3 linked regions of the Homo sapiens genome follow. Changing the gene in region 3 together with the main gene of any one other region gives a genetic interaction. Each region holds a gene or a part of one and is shown on either strand. Other genes may lie near its edges. The genes, in order: HILPDA, G0S2 and EPAS1.

Region 1 (8,727 bases), on a different chromosome or scaffold from region 3:
TAGATCTGGGAGAGCAGATATAATCATCTGTGTGGTGTGGACACTTTACCAACTGACTTTGAGAACAATCTGAATTAAGCAGCCTTTTTGGTGGGTAAGTAAAACACGCTGAAGAGTACAAAAGAAAAAGCCCACAGCCTCCTGGACTGATAGTCCTCTTTGCCCCAGAGACTCAAGGAGAGGGGCTGGAAGTGGTGATCATTTTTCTTCTTCTTTACAGATCTAGTCATGACAGGCCTGCAATAATCGTGGCCTAGGCTCACATAACTGGTTGATACATGGCAGACCCAACTGCCTCTGCCCCCAAATTCAGAAGTCTACTGATACTATGTTTTAAACAAAGTGATTTAAGCACTTTCCTGCTCCAAAGTATTGAGATGTTAAAATTAAACCTCAGGTCTAGAAATTAAGACCCTCCCTACCACGAATTTCAAGAGCAGAAGTCAACATGACACACAGTAGAAATATATATTCCACTTTATTAGTTAGAAAAAATCATTTAAGCCACATGGTGGCCACAATGTCCATAACTTGAGCAGGCTTTGGCATCCCACCACCCCCTTCAGACCAATACACACTATGTTGGAGGAACGACTTTAAAATGTAAAATGAGAAATGGGCACTGAACACTCCATCCTCACTCCCAACAGCCCACCCACACAACCTCTTCAACTGCTATCCAAACATGGAGGAGCTCTTGTGGAAGAGAGGCTCAACACCAAATAATTGAGCATAAGACATTCAAGACTAAAGGAACCCCAGACAGATGTTTAGGAAGTAGGGTTGAAAATATCACCATCTCCCAACAGCTGAAGTTGGGACATCTAAGAGATGTCAGAGCCATACTGCTGAGGAAAGCACAGCATACACCAGACCCCGGGGTAAGGGCGAGATCAACCTATCTCATAGCCATAAGCAATCCACTCACACCTGTGCATTAAACAGGCTTTTTCTTTTCTTTTTTTTTTGAGATGGAGTCTTGCACTGTGGCCCAGGCTGGGTACAGCAGTGCGATCTCGGCTCACTGCAACCTCCGTCCCCGGGTTCAAGCAATTCTCCCGCCTCAGCCTCCCAAGGAGCTGGGATTACAGGCCTCTGCCACCACACCCAGCTAACTTTTGTATTTTTAGTAGAGATGGGGTTTCGCCATGTTGGCGAGGCTGGTCTCGAACTCCTGACCTCAGGTGATCCACCCACCTCAGCCTCCCAAAGTGCTAGGATTACAGGCATGAGCCACCGCAACCGGCCTAAACAGGCCTTGCCCAGGCAATGAGCATCCAGTTAGACAGGTTCTTCAAGGCCTAGTAATAGTTCTCTGGTTACAACGGTGCTCAGCTTGTCTGCTAGGAATGGGACTCCCATCTGGACATGTCTAGGTCAGTGTTCCAAAATATGGCCAGTATGGAAGGAGGTCTTATCACATGCTTCTGGATGGATGGTCTGGAAGGCCCTTGGTGGGCTCTGTGTTGGCTAGTTGGCTTCTGGTGGTCCAGGAGGTCCCAGGCGATGGGCTCTCTAGTAAGCCCTCTAGGGACTCCATCACTCTAACGAAGATGGAGAGTAGGGTCAGTACCACACCTAACAGGTAGAGGTTCAACACATGCTTCATGGCTGAAAGGACCCTACTCCTCTGCAGAGAAACAGAGCTGCCTTCTCCTTCTGAAAGGCCTCTGGACCCTGAGAAAAAAGAGGAAAGGATGAATCTATAGCCTTTTGGGGATATGCATGCATCCAGCCCTGACTCTTCTGTCCTCTCACAGGGCTGAAGGAGAGGCTTAGCCAGTGAGGGACACAGGGACCAGGGAGTTGCACAGCAACTCTCCAAGAATATTTTACATTGCAAACTTCATGGCTGCGGAGCCAGTGTTGCTTCTTGGACTAATTCAAGAACACTTCTTAAAACTTTTACTTTCTTAGGCCAGGCGCGGTGGCTCATACCTGTAATCCCAGCGCTCTGGGAGGCCGAGGCGGGTGGATCACCTGAGGTCAGGAATTCGAGACCAGCCTGACCAACATGGTGAAACCCTGTCTCTACTACAAATACAAAAATTAGCCGGGCATAGTGGCACATGCCTGTAATCCCAGCTACTCGGGAGGCTGAGGCAGAATTGCTTGAACCCGGGAGGCAGAGGTTGCAGTGAGCCAAGATCGCGCCATTGCACTCCAGCCTCGGCAACAAAAGCAAAACTCCGTCTCAAAAACAAACAAACAAACATTTACTTTATTGAAAATTTTGTTCCTGCAAGGCACAATACACAACCCCTGTGCTACAGTGCAGGCATCAGTCACCTTCCTGAAATAGGCCCAGTCCTTTTGCAGGGGGGTGGTGGGTAATGGGAAATATAAGAACATGCCCTGGAGAAAGGAACCTGCCTAGAAGTCTCTCCCACATCACAGATTGGAGTTAACTACAAACTTTTTGCAAGTCCAAATAACTCTATGAGGGTCAAATCTATCAAGTTCATTTATTTAACAAACATACCATGAATATCTGCAATGTGTTAGGTACCCTGGAAGATACTAGGGCCACATTGCAAACCTTATAGACAAAGGGTAGTTAACACGCAACACGCTAAGTGTTGGGACAGCAAGGAGATCGTGAAGGTGCTCTGGGAGGGCATGGCAGGGATGCCTAACTCAGCACCTGTGGGCGTGGGATGGGCCACGTGGATCCTAGTTAGGACCACCTTAGGACAAAACAGGGCTGACGGCTGAATGGGGACCCCAGATGGGGCGTGGGCGATCAGAGAGGATCCCGGCGGCGCACCCCCAGCCCTGGAACGCGAGGCTGCTAGCGCGGCGAGCACTCTAGCGATGGGGGTGGGGAGCCGGGGAAGCCCACAGGGCCGCTCACCTCCGGGGGAACAGCCGGGAGTGGATCGCCGGCTGTAGGAGCAGGTCGTGCAGGAGTCCGGAGGAAAGTCGGTTACTAAGCACCAGCGCAGAAGCTTCCCGCCACAAAACTCACCGGAGACAAAAGCGCCGTCAGCCGCAGAGCGCAGAGCAACGCCGCCCAGCCTCCGCCCCTTATAGCCGCGAGCACGCCCCAGGAGGGTACGCGCACGCGCACTGGAGGCCGCACGCACGCCCGGGACGCACACGACGTGGCGCACGTCCGCGGCCCCACCCCGCGGGCAACGGGGTTTGGGGATTGTCCCGGGTGCTCTCCCGCGGAGCTGTTTCCAAAAGTACACGTCGTGCGGTTTTGAGTCATTGTGTTCTGGAGTGAGACGAGGCGTGTGTATTAATCTCGACTGCCATCTCTGCTGTAGAAAACATTTGAAGGAGTCAGAGAGCACATATCCCTTCTCCCCAGTAGGTGAAAAACACCGATGGCCTTCGTGTCCGTGAAGCCCCGCCGTGAAGGGTGGGTTCTTCCCCAGAGATTTCGGGTGCACTAAATTGTCAGAGGGCACCAGACCCCTACCCCACTCGTTATTTTCTTCATTTCAAGGACTGAAGAGCTGGTTTTGTTTCACTTCATAGCTGTACCAAGATTCCAAATCCCGAGTTTCAGTTGCCATCGGTATCTCTGGAATGGTGAGGCCCTTGTGCAACATATTAAGCTCTGCAAGCTCTGCTTTCTATGAGAGTTTGTCGTGTCGCTTCAGAAAACGTGAAATACTCCTGGCCCTGGTGTGGGATCCTAACTGCATATGGGCAAGTCACTTGGTATTTAAATGGGCCTCGGTTTTCTCATCTGTAATGAAGACATTGGCCACTAGATGATTTTTCTTCTTCTTCTTCTTTTTTTTTTTTAAATAGAGACAGTCTCGCTATGTTGCCCAGGCTGGTCTCGAACTCCTGATCTCAAGCCATCCTCCCACCTCTGCCTCCCAAAGTGCTGGGGCTACAGGCGTGAGCCACCGCGCCCGGCCGCTAGATGATTTTTAAGGGTGCTTTCGGCTTGAACTAAAGAGCCAGGAGGTCACAGACCAGCCTTATGTCCAGATTTGGGGGGCTAGGCTGCCTTACTAATCACCCCCGAACCCACCCAGCCAAGACTGTGCGGTCTGTCTTGAGAGCACGCAACGGGGGATCTCAGAAAGTAGAGTCCCGGAGAGACACTGGGAATGGGGAGGACCCCCGGGAAGGGGTGTACACGCCGTGGAAGGGAAGGCCGCTGGTGGCTTTAGAACTGGCGGTTCCGTGTACCCGGGTCAAGTGCCCGTGCCGGATGGGAAAGAACCCTGTGACTTTCCACATCTCAGCGAGCTCGGCGGGCTCTGCTTAAGAAGGGCTCTAAGACGGGAAGGGAGGAGCCATCCCCACTGCGACCTTTCCCCTCCTTTCCTGGCTGGCTGGCTGTGGTCTGTCGGGAATGAGGGGGTGGGGAAGCCGGGAAAGCAGAAGGTTGGGGCTGGAGGTCTGCTGGCAGGCAGGCAGACATTTGGAGCCAACTTTCCTGCTCAGCCCGCAGAACTTTTGGTCCTTCGCTATACCAGAGTTTCGTCTGTTTTTTTGCTTGACTGTGTGACCCTTCTCTCACACTGTTATTAAATAGGTCTCAAGCTGCGAAATCACTGCCAGATCCAAACGCCACTACTTTGCCAGGTGAAGGCCTTGGGCGAACCCTTTAACCTTCTTGTAGTTCTGTTTCCTCAGCTGTTCTGTGAGATCATAACAGTCTTAACCTGATATTAAATGAATTAATCCATATAAAGCGCTTAGAACAATGCCTGGCACATAAAAAACATTCTATGAATCTTAACATTATCTGTATCATCAACTACAAAACTCCCAGTGAGGGGTTTTGCTCATTAGCAGCCTAGGCTTGCTGAATGAATGCAGGAATTCTACAATGACCATTTGAGTTCTACTTAGTTTGAGTTCTAAATTTATACTTCACACAGCTGGAAGAAGGGATGGGCACCTCTCCAACAATTCTTTCTCCCCATATTCCCTGCCATTGTCTAAAGGTCATGCCAGTTGGAAATAAGAAGGGTTTGGGTGAGGGCAGCTCTATGCTTTACCATTCTGTCAGCTACAAATGTAGCTACCTGCATCAGGATTTAGTCCTGCCTTCAACACCTTGGCCAGGCTAACTGACCCCTTTGAACTTTAGTTTCCTTATCTGTAAAATGAGGAAAATAATCTGTAAAACAGGGTTGTTGTGAGGGTTGGAAATAATGCCCATAAAGAGTATGTCATATATGCTCAACAAATAGTAGCTATTATTTTGCTAAAAAGTATAAAGCCAGATTCTTGTTCTAAATAAGCTTGTCACCTGGTTGAGTAAACAAGACCTGAATAAGATAAGATAACTAACAACCCAAGGCAGTGTGGGGTAGAGTTTAGAAGTAAGTACATAAGTAGGGTGGTAATGTTTTGCTTGGGGAACTGGGATTTTAACATTCACTATGGTTATTTAAAAAAAAAAAAAAAAAAGAGCTGGGCATGGTGGCTCACACCTGTAATCCCAGCACTTTGAGAGGCTGAGGCGGGCAGATCACCTGAGGTCAGGAGTTCGAGACCAGCCTGACCAACATGGACCAACATTCTCTACTAAAAATACAAAATTAGCCAGGCATGGTGGCGCATGCCTTTAATCCCAACTACTTGGGAGGCCGAGGCAGGAGAATCACCTGAACCTGGCAGGCAGAGGTTGCACTGAGCTGCGATCAGACCATTGCACTCCAGCCTGGGCAACAAGAGGGAAACTCCATCTCAAAAAAAAAAAAAAGAAGAAAGAAAGAGTGGAAACAAAATAAGCATTCTTCAAGTAACTGATACGTGCTGAACATTTTGCTAAATGCATTACATGTATTATTTAATTTTTCTAACGATGCTATGAGGTAGGTATTATTGCCTCTCTTCTTTATTTGTTGTTGTTGTTGAGAAAGGGTCTCACTTTGTTTTCCAGGCTGGAGTACAGTGGCACGATCACTGCTCACTGCAGCCTTGACTTTCTGGGCTCAAGCTATCCTACCACCTCAGCCTCCTAAGTAGCTGGGACTACAGTTACACACCACCACACCCAGCTAATTCTTTCTTTTTTCTTTCTTTGCCACCACCACACCAGCTAATTCTTTTCTTTTCTTTTCCTTTTCTTTCCTTTCTTTCTTTCTTTCTTTTTCTTTCTTTCTTTCTCTTTCTTTCTTTCTTTCTTTTTCTTTCTTTCTCCCTTTCTTCCCTTTCTTTCCTTTCTTTTCTTGCTTTTCTTTCTTTTTTTTTTGTAGAGATGGGGTCTCTCTATGCTGCCCTGACTGGTCTCAAACTCCTGACCTCAAGTGATCCACGTGCCTCAGCCTCACAAAGTGCTGGGATTACAGGTGTGAGCCACCATACCCAGCCTTCTTTATTTGTTAACTATGCTTTTTCTTCCAGAGGAAGAAGAGACTTTCTTCACCTAGTCTTTTACTCATCTTTCATATCTCAATTCAAACATATTTCCTCTGGTCACCCTTGCTGACCCTCGGACCCTGTTCCGGGCTCCAGTGGCATGATAGGCATTTCTTTCCCAGTGTGTTACTTTACCCTTAGTTGTATTAATGTCTGTGTCCTTTCAAAAGCCTGAAAATGTCAGTGAAAGGAGTGTTTGGTCTGATTTTGTTTCCATTCCATCTCCAGCAGCTAGCACCAAATAGTAGGCTTTTGATAAATATTTGTTGACTGAAGGAATAAATGAATGAATATTTTACCCAGCATCTTCAGTGAGTACCCATTGTTTCATCAAGGAAATGTAGATAAGGGCGCCAAGAGAAGCCGTTTTCAGGTGCTACCTCCTCCTTGGAGCTGCAACCAAGGAAAGCTTTTTATAAGCTGCCCTTCCCCCAAAGCCCCTAAAAAGAAGTGATTCTGAAGTCAACCCACACAAGAGTACCATACTAAGAACACAAGTATTTTCACAAATTTGATCTTATCATCAAGTGTTCATTTAAATAACATGTACTTACATTTCTGGTAAGTATAAACTGGTACATTCAGTATGGAAATCAATTTGTCAGTAATTGTTACCCTGACCCCCACTTGTTTTTTAAACACCTCAAGACCATTGAGGTGTTAAAAAAGACCACTGACTACCATTTGGCAATGTCTATAAAAATAAAAGCATACACATGCCCTTTAGCCCAGAATTCCACTTTTAGGATTTATCCTTCCACATGTAGAGAATGGAGTGTTTAAAGGTAGCACTGTTGCAGCACTGTTTGTGATAATGAAAGACTGGAAAAAACAGCCCATCAGTAGAGAACTGGTTAAATAAAAGATGGTGCATTCAGACAGTGAATTACCATAAAGCCAGAAAAAAGAGAGTAAGTTCTGTATATATCGACAAGATCTCCACAATATATTGTTAAATGAAAAGGGTTTATAGTATGTGAGCAGTATGCTACATTTATGTTAAAATGAACATAAAAAATAGAATACAATGAGACACCACCTCACACTCACTAGGATGGCTATAACACAAACAAGCAAAAAAACCCAGAAAAGAACAAATGTTGATGAAAATGTAGAAAAAACAGAACCCTCATACATTGCTGTTAGAATGTAAAATAGTGCAGCTGCTTTAGAATAGTTCCTCAAAAAGTTAAACATAGAGTTACTGTATGATCCAGCAGTTTAGCTCCTAAATATATACCCAAGTGAACCGAAGATGTATGTTCACACACAAACGCTTATACACAAATGTTCATAGCAGCATTATTCATAATAGCCAAAAAAGTAGAAACAACCCAAATGTCCGTCAACTGGCTAAAGGATAAACAAAATGTGATACAATGGAATATTATTCAGCCATAAAAAATGAAGTATTGATACATGCTACAATATGGATGCACCTTGAACACATTATGCTAAGTGAAAGAAACCAGAAACAAAAGGGTACATATCGTATGATTCCATTTATATGAAATGTCAGAATAGGCAAATCCAGGGCTGGGCGTAGTGGCTCCCACCTGTAAGCCCAGCACTTTGAGGATCCCAGCACAGAGACCAAGGTGGGCAGATCACTGGAGGTCAGGAGTTTGAGACCAGCCTGGCCAACATGGTGAAACCCTGTCTCTACCAAAAAGACAAAATTAGCCAGGCATGGTGGTGCTGACCTGTAGTCCCACCTACCTGGGAGGCTGAGACAGGAAAATCGCTTGAACCCAGGAGGCAGAGGTTGCAGTGAGCCGAGATCACACCACTGCACTCCAGCCTGGGCAACAGAGCAAGACTGTCTCAAAAAAAAAAAAAAGGCAAATCCACAGAGACAGAAAGTAGGTAAGTGGTTGCCAAGGGCTGGAGGAGAGGGGACTGGGGAATGACTGCTAGTGGGTACAGGGTGGTTTTTTTTTTGGTGTGTGGGCTGGTGATGAAATGTTCTAAAATTAGTGCTGACAGTTATACAAGTCTATGAATGTACTTAACCATTGAATTGTATCCTTTAAAACGGTGGATTTTGATATGTGAACTATATCTGAATAAAGTCATTATTTTCTTTAAAGGAGGGCAAGTTGAAGACATCGTCAGATGACAAACAAAAACAGAGTTAGCTGCCGTAGGCCCTTACCGTGGAAACTACTGAAGAATGAACCTAAGACACAAGAAAACTGAACCCAAAAGGAAATAGGGAAATGCAAGAAAAAATGGTAAGGAAATATTTACAAAACATATGGATGTATCTAAACAAATTATGACTACTCAAAACTATTTTTAGTAATAATGGTTGATTTAGAAAAGTAAAAATAACAAGATAAACTGAAAAATTGGTAAACATTTCAGATGGGAACAGTGAGCAAA
Region 2 (7,186 bases), on a different chromosome or scaffold from region 3:
GCATTTTGGAAGACCAGCAGGAAGGATAAAATTGAGTCAGTTCCTAGGAAGTTTCTTGGACATTGAAAGTGAGGCTCTGCCTTGGTATAGGGCTGAATTTCCCATTTTGGAAACTGGGAGAGCCATGGTGCCACTGACATTCTTTTCCTTTAAAACTCCAAATATGTTTCTTTTCCTTGATTAATCTTACCACATTCTGATTGCTTTTTTCCTTTGGGAGTGATAAGAATAGATTTCAGAAAGAGATGGCTTTTGATCAGGGCCAGGAACACTTGGTAGGAATTGAGTTGGCAGAAATGAAATGGAGATGTGTGTAGGGCATTGGACGAAGGAGAGAGTCTGAGCAGAGGCAATGGTGTGAGCCAGTGATATGTTTGGCAAAAATGCATAGCTGTTGATGAAAGGAGTAAAGTGTCAGTACCTGATTAGGACAGGTGACATGAAAAATGTGAGGAGACTAGCATCAAGGCCATGCCTCTGGCTCCTGGCTACTTCTTTAAAGTTTAAAATTTGTTTTGCTGAGCCCTATAGAGTCACTGAATTAGCTATTACTACAGATGAAGCTCTGTACACTGGAGGAGGAGGACTCAGATATGTAACAACCGGTTTTTTTCTCTTTCTAGCCCAGAGTTTCTTACTATGATCTGGATTCGTGGGGAGGAAGGCTGGGTAGAGCTAGACTCATCATCTGCTTTGGTGTTCTTGGGAGCTTATCTCTTTTCCTGCCAGGTAGATAGTTTTTCCTTTCTTTCCTTCCCTTCACCTCCAGACCTCCCTCCTTCATTTTCTTTCCTTCTCTCTGTCTGTCTGTCTAAAATATAGTTGGGAAGAAAAAGGTATCAGCCATGGGAACCTCTGGTGCACAGGTGTAAGGAACAAAGAGCTTTTCTGCCTTAGAATTAATCAGTTATCTCCTACTCACTGTAGCTCAGAAGTTGATCTACCTTTTGATGTTAAAATGCTAAATCTCACGGAAGTTATAAAATTTTCTCTCTTCCCACCCCTAACAAGAAGGAAAAACAAGTCCTCAACAGACTTATATGCATGTAGTAACTTATTACACAGTTCCTAGGTGTGAAGCAAGTGTCTGACCCTCAGGAAGCTGCTCCCTCTGCAGTGCTCAGGTAAGAACCCATCACCATCGCCCACCTGCTCACCCTCCCTGCTTCCCACCCCAGGACACCACACCTCTCAGGAATTACATGAGATATGGTATAAAAAGTTTTTTTATTTCAAAATGCAAAATGGTGGTCATTGTAATAATTAATAATAATAACATAAAAAGCATTTATCCTTCCTCCCTAGTGCAAAATGGTAGACGCATTTAGATAATTCACACAGTGTTGGAAATGTCATGACAATGCAGTGCTGCACAGCAGCAAAACTCAATCCCAAACTCCTTTGGTGGATGCTTGTGGTAGGTCAGTTCTAGATGTCAGCGGTTTCTCTGAAGTTAAGTCCAAATAAAAAACAGCACGTGCTCCTGCACTCTCCCAGCGGAGTCAGGCTCCTGTGCGCGCGCCCCCTCTGTCTCTCCATTCCTCTCTCGGTCTGTCTCTGTCTACTGCGTCTCCCTCCCACTCCGCTGGTCTCCCACAGTTCCTAGGAGGCGTGCTGCCGGTTGGACAGGGCCCGGCCGCCGAGGACCGTGTCCTGCTGCTTGCCTTTCTCCTGCAGGGCTTGCTTCTGGAGAGCCTGTCGCTCCAGGGCGGCCTGCAGCTCCGCCACGGCTGCCTCCTGGTCCCGCAGACGTCTGGCGGCCGTGAAGGGGCTGCACACAGTCTCCATCAGGCCGAGCACCACGCCGAAGAGGGCCAGCACGCTGCCCAGCACGTACAGCTTCACCATCTTCCCCTTGCGCTTCTGGGCCATCATCTCCTTGGCCAGGGGGATCAGCTCCTGGACCGTTTCCATCTCGGCTCTGGGCTCTCGGAGGCGGGAATGACCTGCAGGAGGAGCAGCAGGAGAGGGGCTTCAGCCACCAAAGAACGGCTCCCACCACCCCGCACCCAGCTAATCTTGGGGAGGGCTCATAGAAAGGCGGACTACCTTAGTGGCACGGCGCGAGCAGGAGGCAGCGCGAGCTGCAGTTGGCAGCGGTCAGCGCGTCCGTTGGTCCGACCGACCTCAGCGTTCTCCTCCTCTCGGCAGCTGCAGCTCTCCCAGTTGGAGACTCCGCCGCTGGCACCGCTTTAGCGTCCGGGGGCCGCTTATATCTTTTCTCTGAGACACGCCTCCTGGGCTCTCCGGCCCAGGCCAGCGCGGTCAGAGCCAGGGGAACTCGGAGGGGGAGGAAGAAGAGGAGGGGAAAAGGAGGGGGTGGAACCCGGCTGGGACCTGGCAGGAGGTGGCCACGCGCTGAGCACGCTCCGACTGTGTGAGCTAGGGGGCCCGGCGCGGGTGCCATCGCAGCGGGGCGCGTGGGAAGGCCAGTGTGCACGCGAAGGTCCCACTCCAGGCGAGCGCAGGGGAGGACCCGGAGCCCAGGGAGGTGTCCGCGGACATCTCTGACATGGCGGCAACCTTCTTACTGGTGTCAGCGGGTGCACAGCTTCCCTTGTCCAGGACAGCCTGACATTATAAATAATGAGGGAATTTGGGGGTTCCATCTAAAGAAGAAAGCTTTCATTTTTATTCGGAAGGGTTGTCACCTTCCCACGTGTGTGGCAATGGATCAGAGAGGAGAAGGCAAGGGGGAAGGATCTGGGTAACAGGACAGAACAGGTTACGCTTGGATAAAGCAATATGTGCTAATATTGTTTCTTTCCTGCCTGGTTGGTTTTATTTAGAGGTACATGCATGTATAACTAGAGTCAGTTGATAGAAAACTATTCATTGATGGTGCTTTTATGCACAGAGGTGTGTGTGTGTGTGTGTGTGTGTGTGTGAGAGAGAGAGAGAGAGAGAGAGAGAGAGAGAAAGAGAGAGAGATTAGTCTCTTTGCCTGCGAGCTGTTTCCTTATGTACTTCCGTGTATCAGGGAAGAGCCTTCAAATTCAAATTGTTCTCACTTCCACTTGAGAAGTGGAGTTGGGAGCTTGGGGGTAGGGGGTCAAGTATGGAAGGGGCTGTTGGTAGAAGTTCATCTGCCATTTTAGAATGGAAGTATTTCATGCTCTCCTCAATAATTCTCTGCCACCCTCCTGGGTTTGGGGGTACAACTTCACTGCTCCAGCTCAACTTCAGCTTTGAAGCAGTTTGTGGGCAGAAGGGCGTGTAGTAGACAGCTTAGGTAAGAATCCAGAGTGTGAGTACTCTTGGACGTGTGAAGATGTAGGATTGATTTTGACCAGGGTTAGCTGTAATCACCTGGGGCTGAGGGAGCGTTCTAGTTTGGCTTTGGTTATGGATATGCTAGAGTTAGCAAACTTGGGGAAAAAGAGAGGCAAATTGGCCAAAGGGTTAGCAAACTTGGGGAAAAGGAGAGGCAAATTGGCCAAAGGCCTTTAAGCAGAGAAAGGGAGGGGGCAGGGGAAAGAAGGGGAAATCAAACTGGCCAGAAAATTGCAAAGGTCAGTGATGCAATCTTGCAACAGCCTTTGCAGTCGGTCGGACTGAGCCCTGAAGGGCGGGTCGGGGGAAAAGGCTGTCTCAGGGATCAAATATTTTAGTTTTTGAATTGTTAACAGTAATCTTTCTTTGGGGGTCTGAAGCAATTTCTCAGATGATTCAGTTTAAAAAGGCAGCAATAACAACTACCCTTTGCCTTGACTATTAATAGTTCAGGCAAGGGCTTGTGTGTGGAGAATGGTCAAGGTTATCTAAATAGCTTATTTGAAATTCTATGTTTTAGAATTTAGTCTGAGTGAAGGTGACCAGGGGCCAAATAGAATTGATTATTCCTGGAGGACTGTGTTTCCTGCTTATTGTTCTTTTAACCTTGTCAGGCAGGAAAATTCTGTAACAAGGGTTCCTGCCAAGTTTAATATCAGTCTTGGCATTTTCTTTGAATCTTCCTTATAGTTTCAGAGCAACCTCTGATAACTGGCAGAAATGATTAGTGAGCTTTCCCAATATCTGTGAGGGTTCCAAACCCATTGACTTCTGGAAGAGCATGTGATGTGTGCCCTGATATAAGGGCTGTCACGTGGTTTCCATTCTGAAGGTGAGTCAGCCTAGCTTGGGACCCAAAATTCTGAAATTGACTGGTCCAGTAAGCATTTCCTGTGTTTCTGTAACTCAGAGACGCAAACCACACGTCTTCCTAGGTCAGAAGGCTGTAATTTACCTGGGGTTCCCCTTTCCTGTGATTTGCTGTGTTAGTGCACATCACCAGCTCAGTTCCTTTTTTTGATAATTTGACTTTGACCTCCAGGTTCCAGCAGCTATATTGGTAAGAGCTGGACAGAGGAGGGGCAGCAAGTGCCATGGACGGAGGTCACTGGTAGACTTGATCTTCCTAGTTTAGGTGGTAGCTGGGGCTGAGCAGGAGATGATGGGAGTAGAAGGCTAAGGAATCCAGTGTTAACTCATGTCTAGGAATTTCTGAGTGCAGCTCCTCTGTCTGGGTGGGAAAAGAGAACCTGGCTCCTAGGGTAGAAGGTGACTAGGTAGGGCTTGGAAACTAAACATATATTTTAGTGGGGCTGATGTCATTTTTAGGGAAGTAAAGCACTGTGTTGTGTCATGCATGCAGGTAAGATACAGGTTATAGCGATGATGGTCAAACCAAGCCATAGGGTGACCAACCATCTTATTTTGCTCAGGGTTGAGGGGTTCTCTGAAATGCAGGACTCCTGCTAAAACTGAGCACTAAAACTGAGATACTTCCAGGCAAACTGAAACACTTCCAGGCAAACTGAAATAGTCATCCTACCCTTGAGTCTATCTCAACATTTAACTCTTGCCACTTCTAGGAAGGTAGGAAGGACTAGTTTAAAATTTTTATATTTTGCTTTCTAAATCCCTTTCTCTCAGACATTAAGACATTCAGAGCCATCTGCAGAGGGTAAAGTCACAAAGGGGTGCATGTGTTTCAAGGGTTAAGTGCAGAGGAGGGATAGAACTGTCCCTACCCCTCTGCCTTGGGGATTGAAGACACAGGGGAAAGAGGTCTTTTGGATGGTTAGTTGTAAATGAGCTTCAATAATAATTGTTATTGTTACAATTATTATAATATAATAATAACAATAATAATTATTATTTTGTTACCGGCTGCTTGCTGCCTACACAAAGTCACTGCCCACCCCTGGGGCTCCAGGCAGCTGAAGGGAGGGAGTCATCATAGGAGATATGACAAAACTATTTGTAGTTTTAAGACTACCGCACTAGAAATTTTTTTTAGACCCTTAGTTACTTTCATAGTTTTAGAAAGGAAGTTGCTTATCACTCGGATATCAGTGGAAGACACTGAAATTTATATGTGTAGCCACTGTCTCCTCTGGTCTTATAGACTAGAGTTCTAGAGTCTAAATATTTCTGTGTGGATACACTGCTATTATCACAGCTTGACACACTTAAAACAAGACTCCTTACCTTCTCTATACTCTTACAAGCTAAGTCTTCTTCTCAATATCCTTATTTCTAGCAGTGACATCTCCGTTTCATTTGTTCTCTGGGCTTGAAATATCATGGAAGTTATTTGGAGAGGCCTTCCCTGACTACTGCATCCCACCACTCTCCACCCAGTGCCCTACTTTCTTTTTCTTCATAGCACTTGGTTACCTGATTCTATGTGGATGTACTTAATGGTGTGGTTTTATATTGTCTTCCATGTGCGTTGGAGGATAGGCTTCATGAGGATAGGGACTTTGGTTTGCTCCTCACTGTGTCCCCAGTGCCCAGTATAATTCTTAGCACATAATAGGTCCTTAATGGGTAACTATGGGATTAATGAATGGCTTTTCCATGGACTGTGAAGCCTGGCAGGGAAGGGACTGTTTTTTGTTTGTTTGTTTGTTTGTTTTTGAATGCAGTCCAACTTTTAGTAGATGCTTAAAGAAGCATTCAGGTTTTTGAGGGGACAGTTTTTTTGCTTTTAATCCTTTCTCCTCTAATCCATCTTAAACACTACCACCAAATGAATCTTCCTAAAATTTAATTTTTTATTGTCAACTGCCTGTTTAAAGGCCAAGATCATTTCTCATTGCCCACATAATGGACTCCTGGATCCTGCATGTTGAATTTGCTTGATTTAGTATTCTTGGAATTCAGGCTCTCTATGGTCCGATCTTCTCCTGTTCTTCTCCCACAATAGCCCTTTGCTCCACAGAGAGGTTTCTTCACAGGCCAAGAAACAATTCATTCGCATTGCTGCTGCTTCATTTATTTTTGCTCACACAGTTGTTTCTACCTGAAATGCTGTCCTCTTTCTACTTTGTCTTCCTTTCTTCCTTGAGGTCAAGTTCAATTTCCTGTGCTCCAAGAAGCTACCACTGCCCATGGCAGCACACCTTGATCTCTCCTTTCTGTGAATTTCAGTTGCCTTTGGGGCTTGTACTCTACAGGCTGGCACTGGATGGATTACCGTTTTGTACAACTCTGTCATTGTTTCCTGTGGGCTTGCCTCAGCTCTGTGGAAGACAAAAGCTTTGTATCTTTCATGGTGTTAACATAGAATAGGAGGCTAATCAATATTAGTTACATTGACCTAAAAGTCAGTGCTGAGATAGAGAGGGCAAAGTGACCAGTTAAGGCTCTCTTGGGAAGTTATTTCAAGCACAGTAGCCTGTCCTTGGCTCAGAGCCTTGGTGTTGAAATTGCCCAAGACCTGGCAACTTGGCTTAGTTTCCTCCACTCTGGTCTCCTCACCTTTCACTTCCACTCCCAACTTAGTGTCTGACATTGTAGCCATTGGCTCACTCTGGGCACCCTCCAGCCTGCCCGTGGTACAAATCAAGGCAAAGGAACAGACTTTATAGGCATTCTGCTTTTGTCCTTCATAACTTTTGGTCAAGCAGAGCCACCAGCTGCTGGGGCATGCAGACTGTGCTGGAAGCCTTGAATAGCCATGGGTGGTGTGGTTAGAATTACCTGCACCCTGCTGCCTACATACCACTTCCAGATTAAACAATATACTTTACAAGTTTGAGTCAGCACAAGGAATTTTCCCCAAGCTCAAATGCCAATTGGTCTTAAGGGTATAGGGCTCTAAAGTCAAGCAAACCTGGGTTCCTCCAAATCCTGACTCCTCCATTTGCTAAGGCCTGACCTTGGGCAAGTGACTTAACTTCTATAACTTCTACTT
Region 3 (8,045 bases):
GTGAATGGGCGATAGAGGTGAGGTGGGGTCCCTTGCAGTCAGCAAGGTGAACTCCCACTGCCATGGTGGCTGCCCTTGGGAAGAAAACTAGACCAAGGACCCATGTCTTTACTGAGGCCCTGAGTGTCTAGCTAATCTTTGGAGATCCCTAAGAGAAACCCAAATCCACAAAAGAAACCCCTATCCCACTCTGAAGATTCTCTGTGCTCCGAGGATAGGACAATCCCGCTGAGGAGGCCTAAAACAGCTGCAGGATCAGCACCATGTGGACCTCTTCTGGGGGACCAGGAAAGCGATCTCAGCAGCCAGGGTGCCTTCCAGTCAGTCGGCAGGGAAATGCACGGGGGCACTAATTTCCATGGAACTCTGGAAGACTCCAGAGAGTCAGGGGACCACACAGTGCCCAGCCACACAGACTAGGATTTCTTTAGATGTCTTGGCCATGACAAAGGCCCTTACCAAATGGGAGGCGCACATCAGCTGAGGCAAGACAAACAGAGTGATAGCAAGAAAGCCAGAAAACCAAGAAGAGCCTCAACTCCCATGCCCCACCCACCAATAATTCCCCCTAAGTCCCGGGTACAGAATAAAAGACAGACTCCCGCTGCACAACGATATGGTTACATTTATAGAAGCTCTCTTGTCACCAGTGAAATGTGACCTTCATACTTTCCTTATCTTAATATCTGGGTAAACATTTGTTGTGCAAGCACACAAATAAAGGTTCTAAAGGTGAAATGTGGTGTGTCCAGCAACACCACACTGCTCCAAACCCAGGCCCCAGAGAGTCCTTTTGGCTCTGCAGAGGACTTCTCTCTCCCTTCACCCTGGGCACCAAGGCACCAAAATTAGCTTCGTTGACCTCAGCCAGCTCTGGAGTGAACGCTGCCATTCGAAAATAGCATCTGAGAACTCTTGGAAACACAGGAGAGAAATACAAGGGTACAGTGGTTTACAGAAACTTACTGCGAAAGCAATCTCACTGGAGTGCTTTTTTAACTAAATACACAGGAAAGGGGCATTATGAGGATTTACTCCAATCTGTGGAAAGTGAATTATATGCTTCTAGCTCCCATCCTGATTAATTCTATTAAGTGTGATTGTTTTCATTTAGAAAAATATTGCAGAGGTAATGTTCATAAAGAGAGTTTGTCAAATGACCCATGCTTTGACCCAAAATTTTGCTGTACTAACTTGCACAGTCCTATTATTTCTAGACACTCTCTAAAAACATTGTGTCTCATTTCCCCATATATTTGATATATGTGATTTTTAAAATCTTGTCTTGAAATGCAGAAGGAAGGATTCTCAAGCAGTTCCTCAAAAGGCACAATTTTCTGTTGTTTCTATGTGGAATTCATAAACAAAGCCAAGTAACCGAGTTTTTATGTGTGCTTAAAGGCACTCTTTCCTGCAACTGTGTGTGACGTATTTTTCCAGGACAATCTTTCTCAATACTCCAAAGTGCTTCAGTAACAGGAAGTCATAAAGGTAGGAAGGAGGCCTGTAAATATTTGCTGTAATTGCTCATTAGTAATGAGAATGGCTGGCATTGAATTTTGAGTCACCCTTTTGTGCTCATGGCTCATTACCTTGTAACTGGAGCCCAAGGTGGTACATATGGGCTTTCCCTCACCATGGACAACCAGGTCCACTTCTAGGTTTTACTTCAGACAGTGTGGCTTGTTTCTCTCAGCACCTCCATTTCCCAAATATAAAGGAAGGAAAGCATGCTGGTCTTCTTGCTCCCTGCCCCCTAACCAGAGGCAGTCAGGAAAAAACTTATACAAAGTAGTGACAGTATGCAAAGTTTTTATCAAAAGTGAAATGTGTGTATTTTTTTAATACTATACTAATACAACATCGAGAGACAGATAAATACTGTCTGGGTAGACACACAGCACAATGATTTAAATGATTACCAAAAAATAATCATATACTTTAATGGATGTATTTTAAACAACTTATAAAATGCTTCTGAACTTTCTCAGATTCAGCTCATGTGTCCTCTTATTCATAACAAGCCACTGACTCCCCTTAGTCACAGGCCAGCATCAGGGCACCTCGGACTAAAAATGAGACCAAAACACTCAACCCGTTACAGAATTGATTAACTTCTAAGAATACTATTGGCTGTACCCCCTGCTTCTGGGGGCAGCCTACAGGGCAATGGGGGTTACCTTCAGCACCACAATCATGAGTACAACATAATGGATCCACTTTCCTGCCCACGTGTTTGATTACACGGCCTAACCAGATAAAATCACTAATTTGTTAAGATTGCTACCACTTATCTCTTAGTTTTTTTAATAGGAGAGTTCCATGGCTGGGGATGGGGGGATAGTTCAAGAAGTCACTAGGGGTGTATGAGACACTTCTAACAATCCACTTCCATGGCTTTATAGAATTCACAAAACGTCAGATGAGTACATGGCAAATAAACATATGTTTCAATGGGGTCATTTTTCTCATTGACAAGACACCCTTTCTGAAATATTTTTCCACATGAGAAAAGGATCTGTTCACAGGATCATTATCTGGCATGGAAATTACTTATAACTTTAAAACTGAGGAATCTTTCCAAGTTCGGGGGAGTGGGGGCAGTGGGAAATGTGCCTCCTGGAAACATGTGGAACTTCTGGCAGTGATGTCATCTAGTAAGAGTTTTGCTGACGTACAAGTGGCCCCTGCAAACAGCCTAAGGCAGTCAAGCAAACAGGTATTTCTTAAGAAATTAGAAAAAACAAGGTCACTTAGAAGTGGATAACATTCTTGTCCATTCCACACCTGACTCTTCAGCTCCAGGTATCTCACAAAGGGTCTCGCCACTCTTCTTCACTTTATGCTTTCATCAGATCAGTTATGGGGCTTCCAACAGTGGGAACAGACAAGGGTCACCAAATTACACCCAACATCTACTTGAAAATTACAGATGCTATTAGGGGCATCCCATGGATGACCACCACATCGACTGTGATGCACAGTTGCCAACACGGCTTGCTTCTCTCTTGATTAAGGTATGTGTCAATGCAATTCTGTTTGGCAGCACTAGAAAAACTCAAGGTACCCTCTAGGTTCACAGTGCAGGGGCCAACAGTGTGATGGCTGTTAAGGCTCAGGGCTCATCAGCGAAAGGGCTCTATAGAAATGCAACATGCTATTATCACAACAATCATAGCTATTCTTTATCCCCCTATCCATTCTTTCCTTCCTGTGCTTGCAATTTCAAAAGATCAAAAGAGCCACAGGAAGTCCTGTGCATCTTGATGGTTCTTCAGAAGCCACAGAGGAAGAGCTTCTAACAGGTTCTCCTGCACAATGGAGTCCGAAGGCTGAAGTAATTATTGAAGTCTTGCCACCAGCGAAGGGTGGGATGTGGAAAGCTTTGAATTTCTTGGGGCAGGAGAGAACCACCTCTTGTCAGGGTCTAGGAAAACCCATGAAAAATAAGAAATTCAAGGAGTTCCATGTTGGCCTTTCAGATCTTCAATCCCTATCTGCTTGTGAGGTTTGATGCAAGTGATAAATCACAAAAAAGAAAAGTAATTATAATTACAAGGAAAACAACAAAGGCAGTTGTCATTTATAGAGCACTTATTGTGAGTCAGAAGCAGTATTAAATACTTTATAGATATCTTCAGTAAGGGAAGGGCGTATGGAACACCCATTGAGAGTATAGACTCTGGGGACCTCCTTTACTCAGGTTGAATGCAGCTCTGCCCATGCTACCTATACGACCTTGGGCAGTTAGCCCTTCTAGACTTCAGCTTTCCCATCAATGAAGTGGGGATAATAACAGGGCTTATCTCACAGGATTAAAAAGTTAATCCATGTAAAGTTCTGAGGACGGCACTGGCACAAATAAGACTGTCAGTTTTTTGTGTTGTCCTGATGCAAAATATAATTTCTATTAAGACCACATACATTCCTAGAACATGAAGGTCATCCAAATAACTGTTTGAGGATGATGGAACATTTGAGGATAAATTTGTTTTCACAGTCATTTTTCAGAAGCATTAATAAAATGAATCATACCAGTATTTACCCTGTGCAGGGCACTTGGCTTCCCGTCCTTCCAAGACTGAGGGCAGACATGTAGGTGGACGGACACGCCAGCCAGGGACAGGGAAGATTAAGCGGCACCTCAGAACCTTTACTAAATACACACACCTTCCTCCTCCCCATTCTTCACCACAGGGAGAGGCAATGGCAGTAAAACACAAGAACTGTCTGGGATCTGAACAGGAAGACTCTGAAACATAAGACAGTCACCAAATCAGACATCCAAGAGCAAGGGCTTGCCTTTTCCATATCCTAGAACCTTTGAAAGGCTATGGAGAGCTGAACAGACTTCCTTTAGAACAAGTTGCTTCTATACATAATGTCTTGCACACATTTTCAGAGATTTACACGCCAGCCTCTGAAACCCATTCACAAAGCCTGGTTAAGAAGCTCCCTCTCCCTTCTTGGCCTTCCTGGAGTCATAGCTGTCTCCACTGATATTCTCAGGGGAACAGAAATTACTACCCCTGTTGTCTGTGGAGCCCCACCAGCTCCCTTTCCATGTCCCCACCCAAAGCAAGTGTATAAAGAACAGCAAACATTCCATTTCAGGGGCCTTCCTGTGTATGGTGTCGAAGTACATGATAAGGGATACACCATAGGGAGCCTTGTGTGTTTTCTTTCCTCTCGTTAGCCCTCAAAGACTGCCTTCTCCCATTTGACCTTCCTTCTGAGCCAGTCTTTAAGCTGGTGGTCAGCACCTACTCTGTGTGGTTCCGGGGACACTAGGAACAAATTTCTCCACCTCTAAATACACATAATACTCTTAAATAATTGTGTGTGCTTATGTGTGTGTTGGGGAGGGGGGCGGTTATTACCTGAAATGCTACTCAGAGCTTATCTTTTGCTTCAAAATATTAGATTTCTACAGAAAAGCATGTAGGCTGTCAGCTCTTTATATTTTCTTTCTTTTCTTTCTTTCTTTGACGTTGTCTCGCTCTGTCACCCACGCTGGAGTGCAGTGGCACGATCTCGGCTCACTGCAACCTCCGCCTCCCGGGTTCAAGCGATTCTCCTGCCTCAGCCTCTTGAGTAGCTGGGACTACAGGCATACGCCACCACGCCTGGCTAATTTTTTGTATTTTTAGTAGAGATGGGGTTTCACCATATTGGCCAGGCTGGTCTCAAACTCCTGACCTCGTGATCTGCCTGCCTCGGCCTCTCAAAGTGCTGGGATTACAGGCATGAGTTACCACGCCCAACCCCTTATATTTTTACTTAAGCTTCCTTGTATCTCTTTTTTTTTTTTTTTTTTTTTTTTCCTAATCAGACTAAGCAACTTGATGACCAGGACCATATCCCCTATTTCTTAGTATTCTCTTCAGCATTTTAGCCAGAGTAGGAGTCGGTGTTGAATACAAGTTTGTCATCTTATGGATTATATCTTAGGGTGAATATCAGAGCTGGTGTCCATCATGTGAACAGGCAGCATGGTACTGGTGGGGAGAGGGGTGGAAGTACAGAGTACTAGGGCCCCAGGAGCTAATATTGCTAACTTGACAATATTGGTAAAAGCTAGACCTGTTAAGAACTACCAGCAATGGTTAGTACTGAAAGCAAAAGGGAAGATTCATCAGGCTAAAATAAAAAGGGAAACTAGCAGGTTGGCATAGGGCAGAACCAAGGAAAACAAAACAAAACCCCCAAAAAACTACTAGATTTCCTGAAAAGTGGAAAAGCCTAAATCTCAAGACAATTAATGACAGCAAGTATTTTCAAATGTAGGAGCCTAAAATCCTGGAGCACTGAGAATTATCTAATTGTTTCCTTCCATTTCTAAACACTTTACTTAATAAATTCCTAGAAAGTTGAGAATCACCACTGCCCCCCCCCCCGACGCACGGGCACACACACACACACACACACACACACACACAGAGAGAAAGAGGGACATTCTAAGTAAATTAAACTGTTTAGTCTCACAGTTTTCACTCCTAGTGAAAATGCCAACTAACCCAGTACAAAAATCAATCTAGCAGCTGCTTGAATGTTCTCTACCTCAAAAAGCAATCTGCTCCACTGAGGAGCGGTCCTTGCATTGGTTTTGTTTAATGAGGTCTACCTATATAAGTAGATTTTTTTCTAACTAAAACAATGAATTCATACTTCTCAAAGTTTACAGACACTGGGAACAGCATCAATTCAACTCTGCTTCCTTTTTTTTTTTTTTTCAAAAAGCAAACAGAATCATCACTTCTACTGCAGCCTAAAGGTGTTGATAATTATCCAGAAAAGCAAATCTCCTTTCTATAAGGTTCAGCGGTTTGAGAGTTGTGATGGGGAAGGCACTCCTTCGGAAATCATCCTCACTATCTAGAGATATTTCAGGGCTGGGGTACTCTCCTGTGAACAATAGGAAAATACATACTTAATTGAAAGTAATAAACCAGGGTTCTGACTTTTTTTTTTTTTTTTTTCTTTGAGACGGAATTTCACTCTTGCCCAGGCTGGAGTGCAGCAGCGCTATCTCCGCTCACTGCAGCCTCTACCTCCCGGGTTCAAGCAATTCTCCTGCCTCAGCCTCCAGAATAGCTGGGATTACAGGCACCCACCACCACGCCCGGCTAATTTTTTTGTGTTTTTAATAGAGACGGGGTTTCACCATGTTGACCAGGCTGGTCTTGAACTCCTGACCTCAGGTGATCCGCAGCCTCAGCCTCCCAAAGTGCTGGGATTACAGGCATGAGCCACCGCGACCAGCCCTGACTCTTATCAGCACTAATTTTCCTTGTGACCGGAGAAGTCTTTTAACCTCTCTCGGCATCAGTTTCCTTATCCAGAAAGAGAAAAGTCTGACTAGATGATTTCCATGGTCTCTTATAAAATAATTCTAGGCTCCCTATAAGCACCACTGAAAAAAACTTGAAATGATGGCATTCTTTTGAACTTCATGAAAACTGTATGAATTAAAACTTAAATACTCAAGCCAACAATGTGTTACATCAATTCTGTATCATCCTGCGCTGCTGGTAATACAATGGAAACATATCAAGTGTGGAGGGAATATTTATTTAAAATATATGTTTAAATTGAGAGAAACTGTCCAGCAATATTTTTTCCCTTCAGAGTTGGAATAATGATGGAGTTTGATTTGATTTTAGAAGAGGAACAACTAAGTCCAGCTGTCAGAAGGAGGGGGAGATTGGAGATCCAGGTGTCTCCAATTCCCCTTCCACGCTAGCCCTGTACTGAGCACTACTGTATAAGCACTCTGGGAAGGTGTCTGGACCTAGGTCTGGCTTTGGGACTGGACTTTGATCCCTGATTATCCAAGGATCTCATTTACATTTGCCTGAACCACTCCTCAAACCCCGTGAATCCCAGAATTTCCACATTTTTTTCCCAGTGAAAGGACTCAGGCATTCCTGATAGATGCGTGCACAAAAAGGTGAGTGAAAGTGCAGTACCCCCACCCACCAGGCTTCAGTTTCTGACATCTGTGATGTCACCGCAAATGCCCACTACCACCAAAACTGGTACTATCAAGGACACCCAGCCAACTAACATTTAGAAAGCAAACTCTTTATTATTAAACATTAACATATTTATCGACGTGTGAACATTCTGGGACAAAATCATCTGCCCACTTCTTGACGGGCCATTGTTAGAACGAATATTCCAAATGTTCTGCCCATATTGCATTTGGGGGAAGAAACTGCTCTGCTAAACCAAAGAAACACAAAATGTAAGAACTAGTGGGCAGAATCATCAGCAGAGAGCCCCCTCACTGTCACATCGCCCTTGTGAGGCACTCAGAAAAGCTACAGCAGTCACTTACATGACAACACCAACTTTCAATGTATTGGTTCACATATTTTAATTACATCTTGGTCCCTAAAGAAGCCTGCAGCCAGCAAACAGACCCAGGCACGAAAAGTAAATGAGTCTCAAACTGATTAGCCCAATAGGAATTGGACAACCCCTTAAGGGGCTCTAGATGGTGAAGGACACGCTGTTTGCCCTGCCATTCTGCAGCACAAAAA

Evidence for each region.
Region 1: of EPAS1 (region 3) and HILPDA, changing one suppresses a phenotype caused by changing the other (phenotypic suppression), as found in Homo sapiens cells (one study listed by BioGRID).
Region 2: of EPAS1 (region 3) and G0S2, changing one suppresses a phenotype caused by changing the other (phenotypic suppression), as found in Homo sapiens cells (one study listed by BioGRID).

The regions. Positions count from the first base shown.
Region 1 is NC_000007.14:128,450,151-128,458,877, reverse strand, and holds HILPDA (hypoxia-inducible lipid droplet-associated protein), read right to left. Parts: upstream 3,001-8,727; 5' UTR 2,855-3,000; intron 1,678-2,854; 5' UTR 1,610-1,677; coding exon 1,418-1,609; 3' UTR 460-1,417; downstream 1-459. UniProt on the Homo sapiens protein: Increases intracellular lipid accumulation. Stimulates expression of cytokines including IL6, MIF and VEGFA. Enhances cell growth and proliferation.
Region 2 is NC_000001.11:209,670,413-209,677,598, reverse strand, and holds G0S2 (G0/G1 switch protein 2), read right to left. Parts: upstream 2,188-7,186; 5' UTR 2,050-2,187; intron 1,947-2,049; 5' UTR 1,915-1,946; coding exon 1,603-1,914; 3' UTR 1,209-1,602; downstream 1-1,208. UniProt on the Homo sapiens protein: Promotes apoptosis by binding to BCL2, hence preventing the formation of protective BCL2-BAX heterodimers.
Region 3 is NC_000002.12:46,300,013-46,308,057, reverse strand, and holds part of EPAS1 (endothelial PAS domain-containing protein 1), read right to left. Parts: intron 1-8,045.